Linked DNA regions of Homo sapiens. The protein of the gene in region 2 purifies or fractionates together with the protein of the main gene of each other region. This does not show direct contact. Each region holds a gene or a part of one and is shown on either strand. Other genes may lie near its edges.

Region 1 (3,500 bases), on a different chromosome or scaffold from region 2:
TGTACACTGAGGGCAGGCACTGTGTCTTACCTGCCTCTGTATCCCCTATGGGACACATGAAGGAATGAATGAAACAACTAAATGAGCTCAGTGCAATGGAAGGTAATAAAGACTTGCTACTCCTACAGAATTCAGTTGAGAGGAGTCAGCTCTGAACTTCAACACATTCACAATATGCACGTGTATGCAAAATAATCAGTTGATTATAATGCAGAGTGATTAAAACTGCTAGATACACATGAAGTTGGTTAGAAAACACTTTTAGAACAGTTATAGTTGGTATTCTGAAAGAGAGTTTAACCAATGTTCGGTGAAGAAGAGATGGGAAAATATTCTAGACAGAAATAATGTGTCGTTTCAGAGGCTGATGTAGGGCCCAGAACACGATTCATAGTGACAAATTTAATTCCCTCATGGTAGTACCGAAATGATACGAGATTCCATCACTAAGTGCCTCACCACTTTGTCGTGTGCCAGAAATCACATCTCATGGGCACCATCTCATGACAGTGCCCGTGTTACTCATCATCACTAACACCTGGGAAATCAACCCCTCTGGGGCATATTCTGAATGCTTTCTGATGCCATTCAATTTTTTTTTGTACTCCCCACGCTTTCCTTCTTAAAAACTTGTTATTATGCCAGGTGCAGTGGCTCACACCTGTAATCCCAGCACTTTGGGAGGCCGAAGAGGGCGGATTACTCAAGGTCAGGAGTTTGAGACCAGCTTGGCCAACATAGTGAAAACCCATCTCCCAAACACAGAAAAATTCGCTAGGTGCAGTGGCGTGCGCCTGTAGCCCCAGGTACTCGGCAGGCTGAGGCAGGAGAATCGCTTGAACCTGGGAGGTGGAGAATGCAGTGAGCCAAGATCATGCCACTGCACTCCAGCCTGGGTGACAGAGCGAGACTCAGTCTCAGAAAAAAAAAACAACACAAAACCTGTATTTAAAGGAATAACTCTTCCCTCTAGTGGATCACAGAGAAATTTCTTTTTAAAGAAATTTCTTTTCAAGAAAACAGCCCATTTTCATTCAACCCAACTACTTTTAGACATACCCACTCCAAATAGTTAGCAGCCTTTTTAGGCACACGGTACATGCGAAATGGCATCCCAAACTACCGTAACCATTTTACTAGAGGTAAGAAATCTGGGAGAAAGTAAATCAATCTTGAGGCTCTTTTAGAAAATAAAGCAAAACACATGAAAACAATTAAAGCAACTTTACAACGTCAAGATAAAAAATTGTTTTGTATTCAAATTGTTTTTATCATTAGAAGGGCTTTAAAATGGAGGTAACTATTAGACTGCGTTTAATTTTATTTGTAGGAAAAGCCTTTGAGGAATTTATATTCTAGACATAATGAATTGTCAATTTATACTCTACCAAAAGAAATCTTAATTACTAAAACTGAGTTCTCTCTTTCCAAACTGTCTGCTGGCTGGGTGCGTTGGCGCATTCCTGAAATCCCAGCACTCTGAGAGGCCAAGGTGGGAGGATCACTCGAGCCCAGAAGTTTGAGACTATCCTGGGCAACATGGTGAAACCCTGTCTCTACAAAAAATACAAATATTAGCTGGGCATGGTGGTGCACGCCTGTAGTCCCAGCTACTTGGGAGGCAAAGGTGGGAGGATGGCTTGAGCCTGGGAGGTAGAGGCTGCAGTGAGCCAAGACTGCACCACTGAACTCCAGCCTCAGCAAAAGAGCCAGACCCTGTTTCAAAAAAAACAAAAAAAAATTGATTGATTGCTAAAATATCAATAAGATCTGTAGCCAAAACAAACAAACAAACAAAAAAAAAAACTAGTTAAAAATCAAGTGCATCATTGTTTTTTCAAATAAATTTACTTACCATATATATAATTACAAAAACTCGCGCTATGGGGTATCTTCGGAGAAAAATTCCCAGGCGAATACTGTGCAGACACAGGTGTGAGGGGGAGAGGAGAGAGAAGAGTCACAGTCAAAACAAATCTTCCTGTGGTAATATCTAATGATGCTGATAAATTTAACTCATTTAAACTATTTATGTGGCTACCACAGAAGAACAATTTTTATAGCAGACTGTTAAATGATTACTTGAAATAATAATATAAAAATGTCATAGAGGTAAATAAATGCTTTTATCATTATTTGGGGCTTGGCTGTTAAACTTCAGCACAGGTATTTCTCTTAATTCTACAGCCACAACTGTAGGAGGCAAACTTGATCCCTAATTTTTTTTTTTTTTGAGACGGAGTTTCTCTCCTGTCGCCCAGGCTGGAGTGCAATGGCGCGATCTCTGCCCACGGCAACCTCTGCTTCCTGGGTTCAAGCAATTCTCCAGCTTCAGCCTCCCGAGTAGCTGGGATTACAGGTGCGCCACTACCACCACGCCTGGCTAATTTTTTTGTATTTTTAGTAGAGACGGGGTTTCGCCATGTTGGCCAGGCTGATTTCAAACTCCTGACCTCAGGTGATCCGCCTGCCTCAGCCTCCCCAAAGTGCTGGGATTACAGGTGTGAGCCACCGTGCCCGGCCTAAATCTTTTTTTAGTGGAATTACAGAAGTTACGAAAGATTAGGTGGGTGTCAACTATGTGACTGGGGAAAAAAAGAGTCTGGTTGGCATTAACCTGCAAATAGCTAATCTAGAAGCTTTTGTATAGATACATGCTTCTAAAAGGTACAAAGCTATAAACTCATGCATTTGAATAAATAGTGTGGAAGCAATATGATGTCCAGATCTATTATGCCTCTGCAACATTTTTTTCCCTATCAAGACAGATACATGCAGAAGCAATACCCCTTTCTGCTTCTTTCATTGCCACTAGCACAATGTCTTGCACTTAGGTTCTCTAACAACTACGTATGTTGAATAAATGAATAGTTGAACTAGATGTGCTTAATTTGGACATAATGGCTATGGCATCCTAGTTCTGAGGCTTCAGTCATCTTGGTATATCATTCTTATTTTTAATACAATAGCTCAATTCTGACACAAAAAGGTACAAAAAGATTATTATGCCACAATTCATTAAAACTTTTCATTATAAACACTACAAAGAAAAAGGGTACAGTAGGTTATTTAGACAAGAACCTTATCAATGCTATATGTAAACTATTAAAATATTTTTTTGATAAGGCAGATGTCTGCTAATATAAAAAATTTACATATACATAAACATAAATTTTGTTATTTATATAAAATATATAATACAATGAGTGCTGTTCAGCTATATATAGTAGCATCTTTTATTCTAATAGCATGATAAAATTCTGGGATAAAACATTCAAATGGATACTTTTACATGAAGTAGAGGCTTTCTCAATAAAATTTAATGAAGTTTTTAAAAATAGAATTTATTATAGAAAAAAGAGATACAGTCAGGGTTAATCATCTTCAATAAAATGTAGGCATTGGCAGACCTCTTGACATAATTTCTGACATGATATTTCAAATATCATGAAAGAAGTCACTTCATGAAAGTGTAATATAACTGTGAAATAAATAAAAGT
Region 2 (7,625 bases):
ACTTATCTGTAACCCTGTCACCCAAAGGAAACAACTGTTAGTTAATATTTGGTCATCGTTTTCCAGTATTTCCTAGATACTGACTTATTCATAGATCTGTAAGAAAAATACTTAAAAAGTTAAAATTGAGATCATACTAAAATACAATGTTATGTGTTCTGCTTTTTTTTTTTCTAGTTACTTTACGAGTATTGCCCATTATCATATACCCTTCAAAAAATAAGATTCCTGGCCAGGCATGGTGGCTCATGCCTGTAATCCCAGCACTTTGGGAGACCGAGTTGGGAGGATCGGTTGAGCCCAGGAGTTCAAGACCAGCCTGGGCAACATAGCGAGACCTCGTCTCTATTAAAAATAAATTAGCTGGACGTGGTGGCACATGCATGTAGTCCCAGCTCCTCAGACGGCTGAGGTGGGAGAATTGCTTGGGCCCAGGAAGTTGAGGCTGCGGTGAGCCAAGATTGTACCACTACATTCCAGCCTGGGTAACAGAGTGAGACCCTGTCTTGAAAAAAAAAAAAAAAAAACAGATTCTTAACGGCTGCATCACATACTGTCATTGGACTCCACCGGGATTTGTTTAAATATTCTTCTATGGTTGAACATTAAGATTATTACAGTTTTTTTGTTACTACAAATAATGCTGTTATTAATATCCTTATGTCCAAATCTTTGTGCCCTTTATTATTTACTTAGACTGGATTCCTAGAAGTAGAGGTGTTGGGTCAAGGGGTCTGGAAGTTTTGAAGGCCCTTGATTCATATTTCCAACTTACTTTCTAGGAAGTTCATATTAAATTATCCCCATTTCCACCAGCAGTGTATGACACTGCCTACTTCACCACATGGTACCTAACAGTGGACATTGTGTTAAACAAGAGAGAGAATGGTATCTAATCAGTGACCTTGCTAAAAGTCAATCTGATTGTAAACCCCCAGAGCCCACAGAATAAAACCCAAACCTCTGTGATGTATCCATGGCCCAGCAGAATGGCATGGCCACTGGCATGGCTACTGGCAGCCTTCTCTCAGGCGTGGTCAGAGAGGCTTGGGTATCTCTCACTCCTCTAGCCATGCTTCTCTGTGCCTCTGTTCTGGCCAGCAGAGGAAGCAGGGAGAAAGCCCTGGGAGGGGAATTCAGGCCTCATGCAGGGGCTGTGCTTACCTGTAGCCGGGGGCAGGAAAGGTGGACTGCTGCTTGCAGGGCAAGCCCAGTGCTCCCATCGTACAGATGGTACCATGGAGGCCAGGGCAAGGCAGGGAATGGAAATGCTCCGTGAATCTAGGTCAGTGTCCACTGCCTGTGCACTGAGTTATCAGAAAGAAAAGCTGGAAGAGGCTGAGCACCAGGCAGGGGCAACTATGGCAGGGTCCCAGGGCATGAGGTGAGGATGGGTAAAACAAGCTTCCTCAAGCCAGGTGAGGCCTGGATCCCAAGAAAGGGAGCACTGGAAGCTGCTGCTGCTGCTGTTGCTGCTGGGCGGGGTGAGGTGGGAGGAATGGGGTGGCTTCAGGCTTTGGGCTGGATGATTGGTGTCCCAGGGCCTGACAGGTCTGGGAATCTTGGACTTTGGGCCTTGTGATGGTTAATACTGAGTGTCAACTTCTTTGGATCGTGGGATACAAAGTATGAATCCTGGGTGTGTTCTGTGTGGGTGTTGCCAAAAGAGATTCACATTTGAGTCAGTGGGCTGGGGAAGGCAGATCCACCCTAATCTGGTGGGCATGATCTAATCAGTTTCCAGTGAATATAAAGCAGGCAGAAAAACGTGAAAAGGAGAGACGGGCCTAGCCTCCGAGCCTACATCTTTCTCCCATGCTGGATGTTTCCGTCCCTTGAACAATGGACTCCAAGTTCTTCAGTCTGGGGACTCGGACTGGTTCTCCTTGCTCCTCAGCCTATTGTGGAACCTTGTGATCGTGTAAGTTAATACTTAATAAACTCCTCTATCCTATTAGTTCTGTCCCTCTAAGAGAACCCTGACTAATACAGGCCTCATTGCTGCCTCTACTGTCACCTACCAGGGAAGCTGGGCCATTCTCGTCATCTGTGGACTCCGTCTCAGCTCTGCTCAGTTTTGGGAAGAACTCTAGGCTCTGCCATTGTCACCCCTACATTGACATGTTAATATCTCTATTTAAGAAACTTGTGCAGGGCCTAGAGTTGGGCAAGGCTGGACCTTGGGAGAGAGTAGAATCTGACACTCCCTGCTCTTGGAGTAATGCTGAAAACACAGAGGGGCACAGCAAGAGGAGCAAGGTGGGGTGGCTTCCTGGTGGAGGTGGCATTTGAGCTGGGCCTGAAGGGTCAGGCAGTCAGTCCTTTTACATATGGAGAAGTGTGCTGGGGATAGGGGAGGGGGTGCTGCCTCGTGGGGAGAAACAAGGAGAGCACAGAGCTGGGTGGTGCAGGGCATGTGGGGGCCACAACTGGCTGGTGTGTGTGGCTGTGAGGAGGGAGATGGGGTGGGAGGGGAGGAAGGCTGGGGAGCCAGTCAGGCAGGGCCAGCTTGTGAGGGCCTCAAATGCCCCACTGAAAAGCTTCCACTTTGTTCTGAGAACAGTGGGGAGCCACCTAGGGATTTCAGTGAGAAGAGTGATGCAATCACATGTGCATTTCAAAAAGATGCCCCATGAAGGAGAGATTGGAGGGAGGAACAGGACTGAAGTCTTGGGACCAGCCAGGAGGCTGGTGTGAAGGCCAGGGTGATGCTGAGAGCAGAGGGTGATTTGGGGGCTGTTCTGTGGCAGGATCAGCGGGACTTGGTGCTGCCTTGCTGGGATGAAGATACCAGACCTGTAGCCCCAGCCCTGCCATGTCTTCACTGGCATTGGCATACGATGGCCTCAGCTACTAACCTGAGACCTGCGTCTGTACAGAGCCCCGCCCTCCCTCACCTGGAGGCCCGACTCCTGCCCCACACCTTCCTGGCGGCCTCCTTCACCTCCTTGTTCCTCAGGCTGTAGATGGTGGGGTTCAGCATGGTCGTGACCATGGCATAGAGGACTGTGAAGACCTCATCAGAGATGTGGGCTTCCTTACTCTTGGGCTTCAAGTACATGAAGATGATGGTGCCGTAGAAAAGCAGCACTACAGCCAGGTGTGCCAAGCAGGTGGAGAAGGCTTTGCAGCACCTGGCGGCCGAGGGCACCCTCAGGATGGTGGCCAGGATGAGCAAGTAGGACAGGCAGATGAATGCCAGGGGTACAGGCAGCAGCAGGATGGAGCCCGCCAGCAGGAAGTCTTCGCTGACCGACGTGTTGCCGCATGCCAGCTTCAGCACTGCCAGGATCTTGCAGGTGAAGTGACTGACCACGTGGTGGCCACAGAAGGGCAGCCTCATGGAGATGACCATCTCAGTCACCGACTTGAGGAGGCAGAGGACCCAGGCAGCTCCCATCAGCAGCACGCAGAGCCGGTGGCTCATGAGCACGTGGTACCTGAGTGGCTGGCAGATGGCCAGGTAGCGGTCATAGGCCGTGATGGCCAGTAGCAGGCACTCCGTGGAGCCCGTGGACAGGCTCAGACACATCTGGATGGCACAGACAGCAAAGGAGATGGTCTTCCGGGATGACAGGAGGTGGACCAGCATCAGAGGCACAAAGGTGGGCGTGTAGCAGATGTCCAGGGTAGAGAGGTTGCCCAGGAAGAAGTACACGGGCGTGTGCAGGTGGATATCTAGCACGCTCACCGCCATGATGGCTGTGTTCCCCAGGAGGGTCACCAGGTACATGGCTGAGCACAGAGGGAAGAGCAGATGCTCCAGGGCTGGGTAGCCAGAAAATCCTTTCAGAAAGAACTCGGACACCTCTGTTCTGTTGAGCGGCTCCATGCTGCAGAGTTCTGAAGAGATGGTCCACAGCTGGGATGGAAGGAGAGAGGGTACAGGGTGCGGGGAAGCTCACAGAGCCCTTTCTGGGACGAGGTGGACTGTCAGGATCTTTTCCAGCACTGCCACACTCACTGTCTGTGACGTCGGGCAATCCCTTTATCCTCTCTAGGCCTCAGTTTATCCATGTGAAAAATGAGCATTGATTTAGATCAGCATTCCCTGAGAGAATGTTAATGAGAACATTAGTAAGCAATCTGAAAAATCAATTTGAGACAACATTGGATTAATAAAAAATAAAGCTCTTTACTGCAGGACTTCTCAGAGCGTTTACTACGCTAATGTGATCTATGACTCCTGCAAAGCAATGTAGAACATCTGTACCCCAAACTTATTTGATCATGGATCCCCTTTTACAGAAAACCCATTAACCTACTGCAGATAAGTGTTCTATGAGCATAGTCTGGGAAACAGTAGGCTAGATCAACAGTTCTCAAACTTTAACATGCACCAGAATCACCTGGAAAGTTTGTTAAAACAGATTGTTGGGCCCCAAACCCAGTTTCTGACTCGGTGCGTCTGGGCGATGCTTCTGCTGCTGATGTAGGTACCACACTTTGAGGAACTAGTGGGCTAGGTGGTCTCTGAGCAGGTGGAGATTCTCCTGGCTTTAAGGAAGCCTCTGAGCCATCGCATTTGCTATTCCTTCTGTCTGGAATGTCCTCGGCCTGCAGTGGTCTGACCTGTCTCTTCAGGCCTACTCTAGTATCCATGAACAAAGCATACACCGTGCTGTGTGTTGGAGGGCTGCTGACCTTGAAGCCTATCGCTGGGCATGTTCCCCTGTCCCCTGCCCAGGGCCTGTTTCATTAGCTACCCTGTGTGGATTGGACCTTCACAATCTGCCTTCCTGTGGGTTTCCCAGCTAAAATCTGATGGAGCTTTTGGCCCAGCTCCAAACCCCTATGTTCTGTGGGCCAGAGCGAGGGCTGCTTTGACTTCATGAACTCCTAGGGTATTAGCATGGAACATGACCAGAGGCCAACTTGTTGGATCTCCCATTGTATAGATGGGGATGCTGAGGTCACACAACAGGTCTCTGGTGAGGTGAAGCTAGAATCCAGCCCTCCCAACAGTGTGACCCCTATACCATGCTCAGAGCAGGTGTATGCTTCTATTAGGTTTCAAACAATGCTTGTTCTTTTACCATTCTAGATGGATATCAGTGCCCCAGGTGCTGCCACAATCCTCTCACCAGCAAAAGAGCATGAGTCACCTCTCCTTAGTGTTCCAGGGTATCTGGCACGGTGTCATTAATCCCATGGGACACGATGCCAAATCCTGGGCCTGGGTGGAGCACAGTTCCTCTCAGTGCCTTCCTTGCAGGAGACCATTTCCGTCTTTTATTCCACCCTCACTTACTCATCCCAGAACCTAGAAGTAACTGAGGACCTGCTACATGTCAGGTGGTGCCAGATGTGAGGGAGCACTGATGACAGGTGTGCTCCCAGGCTGCTGAGTGCAAACCCTTCCTAGGCAGAGAGGACCCCCAAGTCTTCCATACCCAGCCTCACCGTCCCCCCACTCTTCCGTACCCAGCCTCACCCACCCCTCCCACTCTCCCATACCCATCCTTGTCCTCCCCCACCCTCCCATACCCAGCCTCCCCCTCCCCTGACTCTTCCATACCCAGCCTCACCCACCCTTCCCACTCTCCCATACCCAGACTCACCCTCCCCCCACTCTCCCATACCCAGCCTCACCCACCCTTCCCACTCTCCCATACCCAGCCTCACCCTTCCCTCACTCTTCCATACCCAGCCTCACCCACCCTTCCCACTCTCCCACTTTTCCAAAAGTAACTATTGTTATTAGTTTTGTGTATATCTATCCAGATACTTTTCTGGCCATTTGCATATGTATATCTATACATGGAAATAGGTCTTGTGACTTTTTAGTATGCTTTTTTGTTGCAGCTTTATTGAAGGATGGTTGATGTACAACTATATTTAAATCATATAATTTGATTAGTTTTAATGTATACAGTCATGAAACCATGACCACAATCAAGATAATGAACTTATCTAATATACCCACAATTTTTCTCATGCCCCTTGGTAATCCATTCCTTTCTTCCCCAACCAGGCAGCCACTGATTTGCTCTCTGTAACTGTAGATTACTTTCATTTTCTAGCATTTTACATAAAGGGAATTATGCAGAATGTACTCTTTTTAAAATCTGGCTTCTTTCACTCAGCGTGATTATTTTGAGAGTCATCCATGTTGTGTGAATCAATGGTTAGTTCTTTTTAAAAATAGCATCTTTATTGAGCTATAATTCAAACACCATGCAGCCGCCCATTTAAATTCACCCATTTAAAATGTACAATTCAAATACAAAACTATTGCATTGTACACTTTAAATGGGTGAGTTTAAAGTGTACAACGGGTGAATTTAAAGTGTACAATGCAATAGTTTTGAGTATCACCACAGTTGATTTTAGAACATGTTTATCACTTCCAAAGGAAGCCCATACCCTTTAGCCATCACTCCCCTTTTCCCCTCAACCTCCTCCAGTCTTAGGAAACCATTAATCTACTTTTTGTCTCTTTTGAGCTGCCTATTCTGGACATTTTACATAAATGAAATTATAAAATATGTTTCCCTTTGTGACTGGTTTCTCTTACTTAGCTTAATGTTTTCAAGGTTCATCTATATTGTAGCATGTATCAGGACTTACTTTCTTTTTATTGCTAATTAATATTCAGTTGTATGGATATACCACATTTTATGTGCCCATTCATCAGTTGATAGACATTTGGGTTGATTCCACTTTTTGACTGTTACGAATAGTGCTGCTATGAACATTTGCATACAAGTTTTTGTGTGGATGTATATTTTCATTTTTCTTGGATATTTTCTTAGGAGTGGAGTTTCTAGGTCATATAGAAACTCTATGTGTATATTTTTGGGGAACTGCCAGTTTCCAAAATGGAAAGTATCATTTTACTTTCCCATTTTACATTTCCCCAATATGTGAGGGTTTCAATTTCTCCACATCCTCACCAACAATTGTTATTATCTGCTTTTTAAATTATAGCCATCTTGGTTGGGTGTGGTGGCTCACGCCTGTAATCCCAGCACTTTGGGAGGCCGAGGTGGGCAGATCACTTGAGACCAGGAGTTCGAGACCAGCCCGGGCAACATGGTGAAACCTCGTCTCTACAAAAAATACAAAAATTAGCCGGGCATGGTGGCATGTGCCTGTAGTCTCCGCTACTTGGGAGATTGAGGCAGGAGAATAGCTTGAGCCCAGAAGGTTGAGGGCTGCTGTGAGCCATGTTCATACCACCCTACTCCAGCCTGGGTGACAGAGTGAGACCCTGTCTCAAAAAAAAAATTTATATTTATATATAACCATCATAGTAAGAGTGAAGTGGTATCTAATTGTGATTTTGATTTGCATTTCTCTAATGGCTAATGACATTGAACATATTTTCAAGTGCTCATTGGGTATTTGTATATCTTCTTTGGAGAAAAAAATAGGCTCTTTAGCCTATTTTAATTTTAATTTTTTTTCTTTGAGATGGGGTTTCGCTCTGATACCCAGGCTGGGGTGCAGTAGTGTGACCTGGGCTCACTGCAACTTCTGCCTTTTGGGCTCAAGTGATCCTCCCACCTCAGCCTCCCGAGTAGCTGGGATCACAAGCACACACCATCATACCCAGGTAATTTTTGTGTATTTTTGGTAGAGATGGGGTTTCACCATGTTGGCTAGGCTGGTCTCAAACTTCT
Region 3 (5,698 bases), on a different chromosome or scaffold from region 2:
GGAGCTCTGGCCTAGTCTCTCCTGGAGAGGGCATCTCCTGGAGGAACACCAGCCTAGAGAAGACCTGTGCATTGGGGGCTAGAGAGGGTGGGAGGTGACAAGGAGGGTGACAGCTGGAAAGGGTGACTGGATAAGGAGCCTGGCAGGAGTAAAGAGAGGGCATGGCTTCGCATATTGTAGGCCACTGGGAAGTGGGGGGAACAGTCTAGAAGGACGCAGGGGAAGCCACAGAAAGGGATGATGGGCATCTGGAGTTCTAGAGCAAGACGTCTCGTCTGTCTTGTGTGTCTATGCCAGTGTATTTGTCGAACATGGCCAGGAGGGGACTTGAGGACTGGTTCACAGAGATTCCCTTCTTTTCGTTTTTCTCTTGAACATGTTTTATCTTTGTAACTGAACAAGGTTAAAAATGAAAAGGACAACCCAGTAGCCCTGAGAGGCCGAGCTACAGGCTGGTGCCACATTCCTGGGGGGACCAGAAGGCCAGTGGCCTGGGAGCTTGAAGAGCAAGAAGAGGGCCTGGCACCCCTCTGGGCTGTGGTTAGAGTCCAGGTTTCGGGAAGTGAAGGGACTCCATGGAGCAACCAGGTTCAAGTGTGATTCGGAGGTGAGGTGCAGTAGCAGAGGGAAAGGAGAATTCTGAAAATGAAACAGGAACTGGGTGGGCTGTCCCCGAGGACACTAATGCTGGGGCCAGCAAGAAGGCTGGCATCTGCAGCAGCTGCAGCAGCCCCTGTGGCCGGCACAGAGATCAAGAAACAAAAGCCAGGCCGAGCATGGTGGCTCCCGCCTGTAATCCCAGCACTTTGGGAGGCTGAGGCAGGCAGATCACTTGAGTTCAGGAGTTCAAGACCAGCCTGGGCAACATGGCACAACACATCTCTACAAAAAATACAAAACTTAGCCTGGTGTGGTGGCATGTGCCTGTGGTCCCAGCTGCTTGGGAGGCTGAGATAGGAGGATCACTTGAGCCTGGGAGTTCGAGGCTACAGTGAGCTGTGATTGTACCACTGCACTCCACATTGGGCAACAGAACAAGACCCTGTCTCAAAAAAAAAAAAAAAAAAAAAAAGGAAAAGCCAGAATGCTATGGACTGAACTGTGCTCTCCAGTTCATGTGTTGAAGTCCTAGTGCCCAGTGTGGCTGGATTTGGAGTAAGGAAGTGATCAAGGTTAAATGAGGTCACCAAGGTGGGGCCCTGATCCTACTGGATTAATGCTCCTAGGAGAGGAAACACCAGAGACCTTGCTCCCTCTGTCCACCATGTGAGCACAGAGTGAGGAGGCGGCTGTCTGCAAGCCAGGAAGGAGCCCTCACCAGGAACTGGCCCCGCTGGCTCCCTGGCCTTGGATATCCAGCCTCCGGGACTTCGAGAAAGTAAGTGTCTGTTGTCTAAGCCTCCCAGTCTATGGTATTTTGCTATGGCAGTCGGAGCTGATGAAGACAGAGATAAGCGGATCCTAAATACCCAGGCTGTTTCTTCCTGATCTAATTGTGGGGTCCTAGAAACCTGCCAGTGTGCGGCTTCAGCTGCAGCCCACAGAGCTCGATGTGGGACTCTCTGTCCTTTCCATCAGGTCAAAATATTTCCTAATTTCTCTGGAGACTTTCTTTTCGCCCCATGGATTATTGATCAGGGTGCTGTTTGATTGATTTAAAATATGTGGGGATTTCCCAAGCTACCCACCCAATTGGAAGGGGCAATTTTTGGCTCTTATCATAGAAAGGGGAGCTGCGGGCAGTTTTCCTGGGCCCTGTCACATCCCAGCCATGTTCCTTTGCATTCTTTTGCTGACACCTTCCCTTGCGTCCTGTCCCTGGGTCCTGGTGTGTCACAGGCCTGAGCCCTCAGTGTGCTTCCTAGGGTGAGGACCCCAAGGCTCTGAAGCAGGGTTAGGGCAAGTGGGCCCATCACAGAAGCTGTCTGCAGGGCAGTCTGAAATGAGGGGCAGGGCTGTCACTCACCTGTCCCCAGACCAGCTCCCCAACACCAACAAACAGGCACCAGAGCCACTGTTCTGTGGATAGTGGGGAGCAGCTGAAGGGCTTCCCGCCAAACTGGACGATGACAATCTGCGAAGGGCAAGTGGGAGAGAGGCAGGTCCAGCCGCGGCTCCTGAGCCACCCTTGTCCTCCAACCCCTTGAAGACCCAGCCACCCTGGTTGGTTCCCCCAGTTGCACGGGCTGCTCCTTGCGAGAGGACCACAAGGCCGGGGGCGTGATGACAGAGCAGTGCATGGCCCCCAGCGCCCCTGGGTGCCAGGCACCTACTGACTCCAGCCTCGGAGTGGGGCCCAGCTCCACTGACCATGCTCCTATTTTCAGCAAGACGGAGGCTGTGACACCCACCCTGCGGGCACGCTGGACATGCCTCATTCTGGAGGACCCTAGAACCTGCCGAGGTCACCTTGTCTTGGCCTCCTGCCTCCTCGGGAGGCATCCAATTTGCAGGGGCAAGCTGTCCAAATGCAAACTGACCCCGTCCTCTGTTGGACTGTCACATTCCGGGCCACTATCCCCTTGCACTCATTACCCAGGACCAGGTACCAGACAGCCAGGGAGCACCCGTATGCCCTGGAACCGCTGCAATGACGCAACCTAGCCAGTCCTGAGCCTACCAGCCCTGCCTCACCTGCTCCTCCCCGAGGGAACCACAGCAAAGGCTCTTGTCCACAGCTCTCACACCCCACCTCCTGCCTGGCGCTCTCCCATGTGGGCCCCTATGGTGTGGCATGTGTCCTCCTCTTGGGGTCTCTGAGTCATAAACTGTCTTTCAGTGGCAACTGTCTCTTGACCTTTTGGCCTTACTATACCTCAATTTTTCTACAAATACACTATATTTTAGAACACTTAGCCCCTCCTAGACAGTGGGGCTGACCAGCCTGTCCACAGCACTGTGGGAAGCAGAGGTTAGTGTGTCAGCACTGGGCACAGAGGTCATCTCCAAAAGAAACTTCTGGAGTTATGGCAGCCTCATGCCAAGGAATTAAGTGCTAGAAATGGGAATGGCAGACCTAGAGGGAGCCAGGGAGGACTCCTTCCAGCATCTGTGAGAAAACTTCGTTCCGATGAGGGCTCACGAAACCCTTCTGGAAGCCAGCGCGCTCACCCAGGGCAAGGCCGGCAATGTTTGGAAGATGAAGAAGGCCCTCTCCGACATGCAGAGAGGACGGGGGCTACAGGAAAGCCAGGTGGGGTGGGGCTCCTTCTGGGAGTGGAGGTGGGGAGGCCAGTACTAGGGGTGGACGAGGGGTCTTGAAGCCCACCACCTCCACTTTTTGCAAGTGGCAGAGGCCAAGAGTGGAGCCGCCCCTCCTACCTGAATCCCGAAAGTGCCCAAAACGATGGTGCAGAAGATGGGGTTGCTGAAGATGCCGTCGAACACGTTCCTCTCGCCGTGGATCTTGCGGGCGTTGATCTCGTTAAAGAGCTGCATCATGACGAACGTGTTGAAGATGATGGTGTAGTGCTCTGAGGGTGGCGAGTGCAGGGGCGCATTCCTCCCGCTGTCGATGTCGAAGAAGAGCTCCCCTGGAAAGCAACATTCCCCACTCAGGCACAGTCATCTCAGCGCATGACGCATTACTCAGGAGCGAGACTTCGGTGTGTAGCTCCCGAGATGGGTCCCTTGTCCCAGGGGATGGCCACTTCCAGCTCACGGCCAAGGCCCAAGGCAGCCACACCCACCCCAGGCTCAACCAACCAGAGTCCTGAGACCCCTCTGGGCCAGGGGCCAGACCCTGAGCCTGAGGGCAGGAAGGAAGAGATTAAGAAGGGAAGTTCTTAAGGCTGGCTTTCCTCGGACGCCCTCCTCCTCTTCCTCTCTCTTGCGGTCACCCCCCACCCACCTCACAGCTTCCAGCACGGCACCCCAGTCACTCCACAGGAGCAATCTTCACAGGGTAAATGTGGGCTGTTCTGTTCCTAGGGTTACCGTGGCCACTCTGGGGCTGGGTAGAAGCTGCCTACTCTACACAGCTACACAGCCGTGGGCAGGATGTCAAGACATGAACTGTTTCTCAGCTGCTCAGCGGCCTGGGAGGAGAGGCTTGCGAAAGAGCTGTAGGCCACCAGCAGGCCTGGCTGCAGGGTTGCTAGCCTGGCCCATCTGCTCCTTCCCCTGTGTGCTGTCCAGTCAGGAAGTGCAGCGTCCCACCCCGTACTGGGTGCGGAGACACAGGTGGAGACACACCAGACAGAATCTGAGCCCGAGGTGGTGGCAACAGTGTCCTGAAGTCCTCCCGGGTGCCCCTGGCCAGCCTACCGACAAACAGCAGGGTGAAGATGATGGCGAGCTGGTACACGGCGTGGCCCAGAATGTTCTTCATCATGGTGCGGGAGATGAGGGGCTTGTCGCGGCCGTACGGCTTCCGCAGCAGCAGCGACTCTGTGGGTGGCTCCGTCGCCAGGGCCAGAGAGGCAAATGTGTCCATGATCAAGTTCACCCACAACATCTGCACGGCTTTGAGAGGAGAGTCCTATGGAGAGGAGGCAGTCACCTTTCCATGGGCCGCCTGCCCGGGAAGGTTGGGGGTGGAAACCCAGTAGCTCCTGGGGGCTCCTCATGGGGTCCACATCACCAGGATTTCATGCCCATGAAAACAGACATCTCCATCCCTACATCGCCTTTACGCTAGTGGGGCGTTTTCTTTGGGCTGTCACGTGCCCGCCTCCCTTCTCTCACCTGGCAGCAGGTGTGCTCCAAATCCCTCGCAGGAGGTGAAAAACCCCAGACCACAAAACAGCCCGACGATGGGGTCTGCCATTTGGGGCAACAGAGTGAGGGCTGCTCTCCTTGTCTCCTGCACCTCAGGGGCAGGAGGAGGCAGAAACTCTGAACTGGACCTTCCTTCTCAGCTCCTCTGAGTTGTTCGTTAAAAATCAGCCTCACAGAAGCCAGACACACAAGGCCACGTACTGTCTGATTCCATTCATAGGAAACTTCCAGAACTGACAAATCCATAGAGAGAGAAAGCAGATGAGTGGGTGCCAGGGGCTGGGGTTTGGGGAGTAGAGAGTGACTGCTCACGGGGTCTGGGTGTCCTTTTGGGGTGATGAGAATGTTCTGGGAATAGACAGTGGAGGGATATAAACCTCGGAGTTATGTACTTTCAAAAGGTTAAAATGGTTCTGTTGAAGTTTGTTATGTGATTTTTTATCTCAATTTAAAAAATTGTTTTGAAAAGACCAAGTTGATCAGCAGGCAATTTAAACACCCCCTTTCTAAGGCGGGGTGAAGAAAATCTGGACACTCACCAATGGGGAAAATGGGACTGTTGAGAAAGGGTTCCCATGGGACGCATAGCCCACGCAGAAACTCATACACAGATGCTCCTGGCAGCACCATTCACAAGAGCCAAAAAGTGGGAACGAGCCATGTGTCCATCAGGGCAGACATACATAATGTGGCAGTCTGTGCCGTGGAGTGTTATGAGGCCATGAAAAGGCAGAAAGTCCTGCCCTATGCTACGGTGTGTGTGAGCCTGAAAACACGGTGCTAAGCGAGATGCCAGACACAAGAGGCCACATATTATTTGATCCCATAGGAATGAAATGTCCGGAACAGGCAAATCCATAGACCCAGGAAGCCTGTGAGTGGTTGCCGGGGGCTGGGATGTTTGGGGGAGAAATGGGGAAATGACTGCTCAAGAGCACAGGGTTTCTTTTTAAGATGATGACAATCTTCTGGAACTAGA
Region 4 (8,198 bases), on a different chromosome or scaffold from region 2:
CACGCGGTCAGGAGTTCAAGACCCGCCTGGCCAAGATGGTGAAACCCCATCTTTATTAAAAATACAAAAATTAGCCAGGCGCAGTGGCAGGCGCCTATAATCCCAGCTACTAAGGAGGCTGAGGCAGGAGAATCACTTGAACCTGGGAGGTGGAGGTTGCAGTGAGCTGAGATCGTGATTGCACTCTAGCCTGAGCAACAGAGCAAGACTCCGTCTCAAGAAAAAAAAAAATGTTACTTGGGCTATATATCCGTCATAAAATTGCAAAATGAAGCAAGGGAATGATCCGCAAAATTCACAATGGTAAGTATTCATGTCTAAGGGAAGGAAAATGAGGGGCTTCAAAGATAATGGTGGTATCTGTGTTCTACTTCTTATGCTGGATATTGCGTATATGAGTATTCGTTTTATTACTATTCTTTACATATACATGTTATATATCCATCTGAACATATTAAGTATTCTACAATTTATAAAATTTAAGCAAACTGCCAAAATGTCAACTTTTTGCCACTGTTGTTCAAGATGCTTTCTTTAAAAATCCAGATTTCTTAAAAGATGTTAAGGCTCAAAACAGCATCATATATGAATGTCTGGTAGCTACACAAAGCAACAGAGATATTACATAACCTTCAGAGAAAAAAACTTTTCTACACAAATTTTATAAAACCATGGACTAACTTTCCAAGGTCCAATTCTATGTAATTCTCTTGTATTTTTTAAAGATATTTAGAAAAATGCAAAAAGAACCCAGGCTAGCCCCAAAAATGTCCACCTTATAAAAAAATATATGCCCAAGTTTGGTCTAGATTCTATATTTTGTGGTGGAAAAAGCAATATGCTTCTTTAACTCTTAAGATACAAGCTAAAGGCCAGGCGCGGTGGTTCATGCTTGTAATCCCAGCACTTTGGGAGGCCAAGGTGGGCGGATCACCTGAGGTCAGGAGTTCAAGAACAGCCTGGCCAAAATGGCAAAACCCCATCTCTACGAAAAATACAAAAATGAGGTGGGCATGGTGGCAGGCGCCTGTAATCCCAGCTACTTCAAAAATAGAGGCTGAGGCAGGAGAACGACTTGAACCCAGAGGCAGAGGTTGCAGTGAGCCAAGATCATGTCACTGCACTGTACTCCAGACTGGGTGACAGAGGGAGACTCCGTCTCAAAAAAAATGAAAAAAGACACAAGCTAAAGTAGATTTAATTGGTTCTGTTGCCCTTCTGCAAATTTTTGTACAAATTATTTTCCTCTTTCAAAGTTCACACTATTTTACTTCATTTATAATAGCCTTATTGAAATATAATTCACACATACCATACAATTCACCCATTTCAATGGTTTTAGTATATTCACAGTTGTGCTACTGTCACCACAATCAATTTTAGAATATTTTCGTCACCCCAAAGAAATATTGTGCCCATTAGCAGTCACTCTCCATTCTCCCGCCGCACACCTCCCAACCAACTTTCTGTCTATATGGATTTCCCTAAATGGACAGTTCACAGGAATGTAATAATACAATATGTGGTCTTTTGTGACTGGCTTCTTTCACTTAGCATAACATTTTCAAGATTCATCCACGTTGTAGCATGTATTACTATTTCACTTTTTTATGGCTAAATAATATTTCTTTGCATGGATATACCACTTTTATTTATCGTTCATTAGTAATGGACATTTGAATTGTTTCTACTTTTTGGCTATTATGAATAATGCTGCTATGTATATTTGTATGCAAGTTTTTGTGTGGACATGTGTTTTCAATTCTCTTGGGTGTATATACCTTGGAGTGGAATGACTGAGGCATACATGGTAACTCTACATTTAAACTTTTGAGGAACTGCCAATTTTCCAAAGCAGCTGGACCATTTCACATTCCCAACAGCAGTGTATGAGGGTTCCAATTTCTCGACATCCTCACCAGCCTTGTTATCTTTTTTATTATAGCCTTCCTACTGAGTGTGAAGTGGTATCTTACTGTGGCTTTGATTTGCATTTCTCTGATGGCTAATAATAAGGAACACTTTTCATGTGCTTATTTATTACTTATATATCTTCCTTGTAGAAATGTCTATTCAGATGCTCTGCCATTTTTACCTTGGTTGTTTTCTTACTGAGTTGTAAGAGTTATTTTATATTCTAAATACAAGTCCCTCACCAATTATGATTTGCTAAGCTTCCTCCCATTCTGTAGGTTGTCTTTTCACTTTCTTGATGATGTCCTTTGATAGTCAAAAGTTTTTCATTTGGATAAGATGCAGTTTTTCTTTTGTTGCTGTTACTACACTGTTTTTAAAATAATTTTATTTGGAGGAAGATTCATAGGTTTGTTGACTTAGGTAAATAAAACAAGCTAAACTTGTATTGGTATTTCATGTTAACTACCACTTCCTTAATCATGCGTACTTACAAGTAGCTTCTAAGTACTGTATTTAAATTTCAACTCTTGGAATAGAAGGAGTTTCTGTCCTGCTACTAAATGGCCTCTCTCCTGCTACTAAACATAAGCCAATGTATGATATGCTCAACACTCCTTTGCTCATGCTATTCCCTTCTCTAGCCTTTCCTCTCTAAAAATGTTATCATTCCTTCCTAACACAGCACAAATGTCTCATCCTTTAAGTCCCAATGGCTCCAACCAGACGTGACTTTATAATGTTGTGTTGGGACCTACATGTAATCTGAGTGCCTGTCTTACCTCTTCTACTAGTAAGACAGTTTCTTCATTCTACCTTATTCATTTTTGTATATTGCAATTAATACATGCTTAATGAATGACATCACCATTACTGCCTTTTTTTCCCATCAAGACTCTAAAAGTCATAAGTAAAGTGGAGTGAGACTTCTGCTATAACCCAGAGAATTCTATGATTCAACTTAGCAGTACTGGGGGAAAATATTGTGAAGTAAGTATCACCCAGTACACATCAACTTCCTCTCTGAATTGCAAAGACCACGCATAAAGGTTGTATCAAACAAGAATATCATTCTGATGGAGAGGGGAAATCGTCAACATAAGTTTCTTGCCTTGTGACCAGTCGTCTTAAATCAATTTTGAAAGCAGTCAGAATACAAAGTAGAAATATGTAACTAGTGATTTAAACTGAATTCATTTAATAAAATCTATCTCTAAAGCATATTCAGTTTTGGAACTTCAAGGAGATGCTCTGCTCGTATACAAAACACCAGCGTCCCAAAGGCAATCAATGAAACCTGCCGAAATGCTTCCTTTCAAAAGTAACCACCCTCAGTTCTAAGACAATTTTAAAATCAAGTGCTAGAAGCACAATAGAGATATATGAACCCCTACTATTTACGATCTATAATTCCTAATTATCTTAACTTTGTCTTAAGGGTAGGTTGGTATTCTTTGAGGAACGACAGGAAAATGACAACCATAAGATATCCCCTATCCCTCACCCTCAAGTATATAAAAAGTTGTGAAAATTTACAAATATCTTAGAAGGAGGTCACGATACAAAAACTAAAATGAGTATTTTCAGGCTTTAAAATCAGTTCATTTCTTTTGGAGGCCATTTCTTCCACAGGAAGAGTGATTGATTTACTTACATATTTTAGGCTGATCTGAGATTTCCGTAGGTGCACCCTCAAAAGACTGAATAATGTCCCAATAAACAATTTACTGAATAAAAACCCCATTTAGACTGCCATTACTGTAGTGGATATTACCTGTACATCATACCCATCCCAGCCTTTGTTCTGACACTGTATGACTTTTGGGGTATAAGAATCACAACCAGCTGTGCCTCCAACACATTTCAACTGTGGGATGGGATCCAGCCTGCGGGAGGTGGTATAGCGGTCATAGTGGAGGGTAAGAGCTTTTACATCCCGCAGCAACATTCTGTCTGAAACAGCAAGAAAACAGAGGAACACAAAGTAAGTATCGTGTCAGAGAAAGAAAGGTTCATCCTAACGAAACTCTCGTCATAGGAAATGCCTTTCTTGCCTTCTGAGGATGGCTAAGAGAGGATGAATCTATTTCTCAAAACTATCCCAACAACATTCAGGCCTTCTGAACAAAATTCAGGTCACACTTTTAAGATCTCCCTGCATTTCAGGCCAGATGCTTCTACAGCACAAGTTGTACATCATTTTTGCTAAATCAAAAGAACAAAAAGTTCATTAACCTGAAACATTGTACTACTGTGTAATAATAATAGTGGTTAATTAAAATGGCAAGAATATAAGCATGTTCCTGAAGCACATTTAATGCTTTAAATGTCCATCAACAGGTGAAGAAATTAACACATTCTGACCTATTACAGTGGAATATTACATAGCAGTTAAAATGAGTGAACTAGAATTCATGTATCAAACTAGATAGATGGCAAAAACATTTTAAACAAAATACAAGTTGCAGAATGTTTTGTATGACAGCTTTACATAAACCTTTAAAAAAGGCAAAACAGTACTACATACTGTTAATGTCTATATATGTATATAATAACAACATGAAAACATGTATGGGAAGGATTTAACACCAAATTCAAATAAGTATCTAGTCTAGGGAGAGAGAAAGAAAAGAGATTTTAGCTCTATTCCTAATGTTTTATTACTGGGAGTGGGGGATTTGTAGCAAATATGGCAAAATATAAAGATTCAATAAAACTGGGTGATGACTATGTGTAGGTTCATTGTACACTTCTGTATGTTTAAATACTTTAGGTATTTCATAATTTTAAAAATCAAAACTATTTAAACTATTTCACAAACTAAAAAATTTAAAACATACTGACAAGAGACTTTGAAAGGAGGAGTCAAAACAATAAAATTATGTCTGGCATTCATGTGCAAAAATGAAATTTTTAGGTTGGGTGTGGTGGCTCACACCTGTAATCCCAGCACTTTGGGAGGCCGAGGCACGTGGATCACCTGAGCTCAGGAGTTCGAGACCAGCCTAGCCAACACGGCGAAACCCCATCTCTACTAAATATACAAAATTAGCCGGGAGTGGTGGCACATGCCTGTAATCCCAGCTACTTGGGAGGGTGAGGCAGGAGAATCGCTTGAACCTGGGAGGAGGAGGTTGCAGTGAGCCAAGATCACACCATTGCACTCCAGCCTAGGCAACAAGAATGAAACTCCATCTCAAAAAAAAAAAAAAAATGAATTTCTATGCATTATTGGAAAATAAGGACAAAGTCTTCCTATTTATCATGTTGTGGATTATTGATGGAAGATGCTGTGGATTGGCTCAGTCAACATCCACTTCACCCTCAAACAGGTATGCCTTCCTGCAAAGCAAAAGGAATCCCAAAACCTCTTGCAGCTATAGTTGCCAAAAGCAATTTCAGTTCTGCCAACCAGAGGGACTCGAGCAAAATCTGGAAAGCAGACCCTAGACTTATACAGTGCTCTGTCCTTCAGCTAGTAAACACAGGCATGGAGACCATGAGTTTTCAAACTGATAGTATCCTCTAATCAGCTTCCTGGCTGTCATGAAGCTTGACATGAACAATCTATTTTTCAATGTGGCAGATGTAATAGGCATCGCTTTCTACCATTTTGTGAGTACCCAATTCCCTATATTCAACCTGTCAGATTAGCAGAATTTGCAGCCTCCCAAAATTCTACTAAAACTATAATAAATACATTGTTTTGATGATGTGAATGACTGTGGTCAGGTAAAACGAAAGAGGAGATGACAGCAGAATTTTGGAAGGAGAAAGTAAATGGACTAGTGGTAGATGACTAGACCTAAGTGAAAGACAAATGCCAGAACAGCAAAGGGGGAAACTGAGAATCAACCTGATGTACATAACAGAATCCCTAAAAAAAAACAAAAAAAAAAAAACAAAAAACGGGAAATGGCAGCTCTGGAATGGGAGATGCCTGGAATACACACTACAGGGTGAAAGCTACTTGAGAGGAAGCCATATTCCCAGATCCTCTCCCCAACTCCACACTGTTCTAACTCCCTCTTCCCCACTAAGGAAACTGTCTGGAGATGTATTCTCTGGAGAGGATAAAACTGAAGGGATTTGCATTGGGGACCATCTGGCATAGTAAAGGGCATGGGGACAAAAACAACCAAACAGGGAACCCAAGTGACTGTGTGCACTCTGACTGCTGAAAGCACAGTTCTCCTTCCCCACATGGTGCACAAAATGCTAACAGCCATCCCCTTGTCCTCTGTGGGAGACTGGATGACTATTCCCTTGGTAATCTAACCAAGAAGAAGTACCTAAATACACTGACATCAGGAACTTCCTCCAAAAAAGAGCAACCTAGGTCACCCTGTTGTGAAGTTCAAAATCAAAAGTGCAACTGCACACTGATAGCTTCCAATGAGCTTTTTGGTTCCCCAGAATTAACCATGAGCAGGGAGCCAAGGATTACTAAAAATATGAGGAAAGTCCCTGCTATGGTTTGAATGTGTCCCCCAAAGTTCACATGTTGGAAACTTAATCCCCAATGCAACAGTGTTGAAAGATGGAATCTTTAAGAGGGCTCTGCCCTCATGAATAGATTAATGCTGTTCTTGCAGGACTGGGTTAGTTATCGCAGGAGTGGACTCCTGATAAAAGGATGAGTTAGGCCCCTTTCCCCTCTCTCACTCTCTCCCTTCTGCCTTCCACCATGGGATGACACAGCAAGAAGGCCCTCACCAGATGCTAGCACCTTAATATTGAACTTCTCAGCCTCCAGAACTGTGAGAAATGAATTCAGTTTTTTAATAAATTTCCCAGTCTGTGGTATTGTGTTACAGTAACATTAAACAGACAAAACAGCCCCTAACATGAAATACAGCAACCAGGACAAAACAACAACAAAAGGAAGCAGGAGGAAAAAAGAGATGACGCACAAGAAGAAAACTTTTTTAAAAACACTGTAATATCCTCAGAGAGATAAGAGAAAAAGACTGCGTTAATAAAACAATCATTTTTAAAAGGGATACTCAGAGAAAAAACAAGAGCTTTTGGAAATTAAAAACAGGACAGCCAAGATTAAAAACAACAGAACTGCCAGGTGCAGTGGCTCATGCCTGTAATCCCAGCACTTTGGGAGGCCAAGGCAAGCAGATCACTTGAGCCCAAGAGTTTAAGACCAGCCTAAGCAACATGGCAAAACCCTGTCTCTACAAAAAAAATTATAACATTAGCCAGGTATGGTGGCACACACCTGCAGTCCCAGCTACTTAGAAGGCTGAGGTGGGAGAATCACCTGAGCCTGGGGAGGTCGAGGCTGCAGTGAGCCATGCACTCCAGCCTGGGTGATAGAGTGAGACCCTGTCACAAAACATAAATAAATAAATACATACATACGACAGAACTGTTAAAAGAAAATCTTCTAGAAAGTAGAGCAAAAAGAGGCCGGGCGTGGTGGCTCATGCCTGTAATCCTAGCACTTTGGGAGGCCGAGGCAGGTGGATCACGAGGTCAAGAGATCAAGACCATCCTGGCGAACACGGTGAAACCCCGGCTCTACTAAAAATACAAAAATTAGCTGGGGATGGTGGCGCGTGCCTGTAGTCCCAGCTACTCGGGGGGCTGAGGCAGGAGAATTGCTTAAACCCAGGAAGCAGAGGTTGCAGTGAGCCAAGATTGTGCCACTGCACTCCAGCCTGGCGATAGAGCAAGGCTCCATCTGAAAAAAAAAGGAAAAAGAAAAAAGAAAGTAGAGCAAAAAGATAGAAAGTAGGAGAGAAAGGCTGGGCACAGTGGCTCACGTGTGTAATCCCAGCACTTTGGGTGGCCGAGGCAGGCAGATCACAAGGTCAGGAGTTCGAGACCAGTCTGGCAAATATGGTGAAACCCCGTCTCTACTAAAAATACAAAAATTAGCCAGGCATGGTGGCGGGCACCTGTAATCCCAGCTACTCAGGAAGATGAGACAGGAGAATCGCTTGAACCCGGGAAGCAGAGGTTGCAGCGAGCCGAGATGGTGCCACTGCACTCCAGCCTGGGGGACAGAGCTAGACTCCGTCTCAAAAAAAAAAAAAAGAAAGAAAGAAAAAAGACAGTAGGAGGAAAAAAAAAAAAAAGAAAGAAAGAAAATTACCAGTTCAGGACCAGTTCAGAAAGTCCAAAAATCCAACAAGGGCTTCTGAAAGAATGAACAAGGGAATCTGATTAGACAAACTCCAGGCTGTAATTCAAGAAAAGTTCCCACACTGAAGGACTTGAGTTGTCATACTGAAAGGGCCCAACAAATACCCAGGCCTGAGAAACAGACC

What was found.
Region 1: the proteins of OR13J1 (region 2) and GOLGA5 purify together in Homo sapiens (affinity purification with mass spectrometry; one large-scale study listed by BioGRID and IntAct). This does not show direct contact.
Region 3: the proteins of OR13J1 (region 2) and ATP2B3 purify together in Homo sapiens (affinity purification with mass spectrometry; one large-scale study listed by BioGRID and IntAct). This does not show direct contact.
Region 4: the proteins of OR13J1 (region 2) and SARAF purify together in Homo sapiens (affinity purification with mass spectrometry; one large-scale study listed by BioGRID and IntAct). This does not show direct contact.

The regions. Positions count from the first base shown.
Region 1 is NC_000014.9:92,835,805-92,839,304, reverse strand, and holds part of GOLGA5 (golgin subfamily A member 5), read right to left. Parts: intron 1,920-3,500; coding exon 1,856-1,919; intron 1-1,855. UniProt on the Homo sapiens protein: Involved in maintaining Golgi structure. Stimulates the formation of Golgi stacks and ribbons. Involved in intra-Golgi retrograde transport.
Region 2 is NC_000009.12:35,866,570-35,874,194, forward strand, and holds OR13J1 (olfactory receptor 13J1), read right to left. Parts: upstream 3,833-7,625; coding exon 2,894-3,832; downstream 1-2,893. UniProt on the Homo sapiens protein: Odorant receptor.
Region 3 is NC_000023.11:153,558,511-153,564,208, reverse strand, and holds part of ATP2B3 (plasma membrane calcium-transporting ATPase 3), read right to left. Parts: intron 4,481-5,698; coding exon 4,267-4,480; intron 3,534-4,266; coding exon 3,322-3,533; intron 2,075-3,321; coding exon 1,967-2,074; intron 1-1,966. UniProt on the Homo sapiens protein: ATP-driven Ca(2+) ion pump involved in the maintenance of basal intracellular Ca(2+) levels at the presynaptic terminals. Uses ATP as an energy source to transport cytosolic Ca(2+) ions across the plasma membrane to the extracellular compartment.
Region 4 is NC_000008.11:30,070,189-30,078,386, forward strand, and holds part of SARAF (store-operated calcium entry-associated regulatory factor isoform 1 precursor), read right to left. Parts: intron 3,868-8,198; coding exon 3,689-3,867; intron 1-3,688. UniProt on the Homo sapiens protein: Negative regulator of store-operated Ca(2+) entry (SOCE) involved in protecting cells from Ca(2+) overfilling.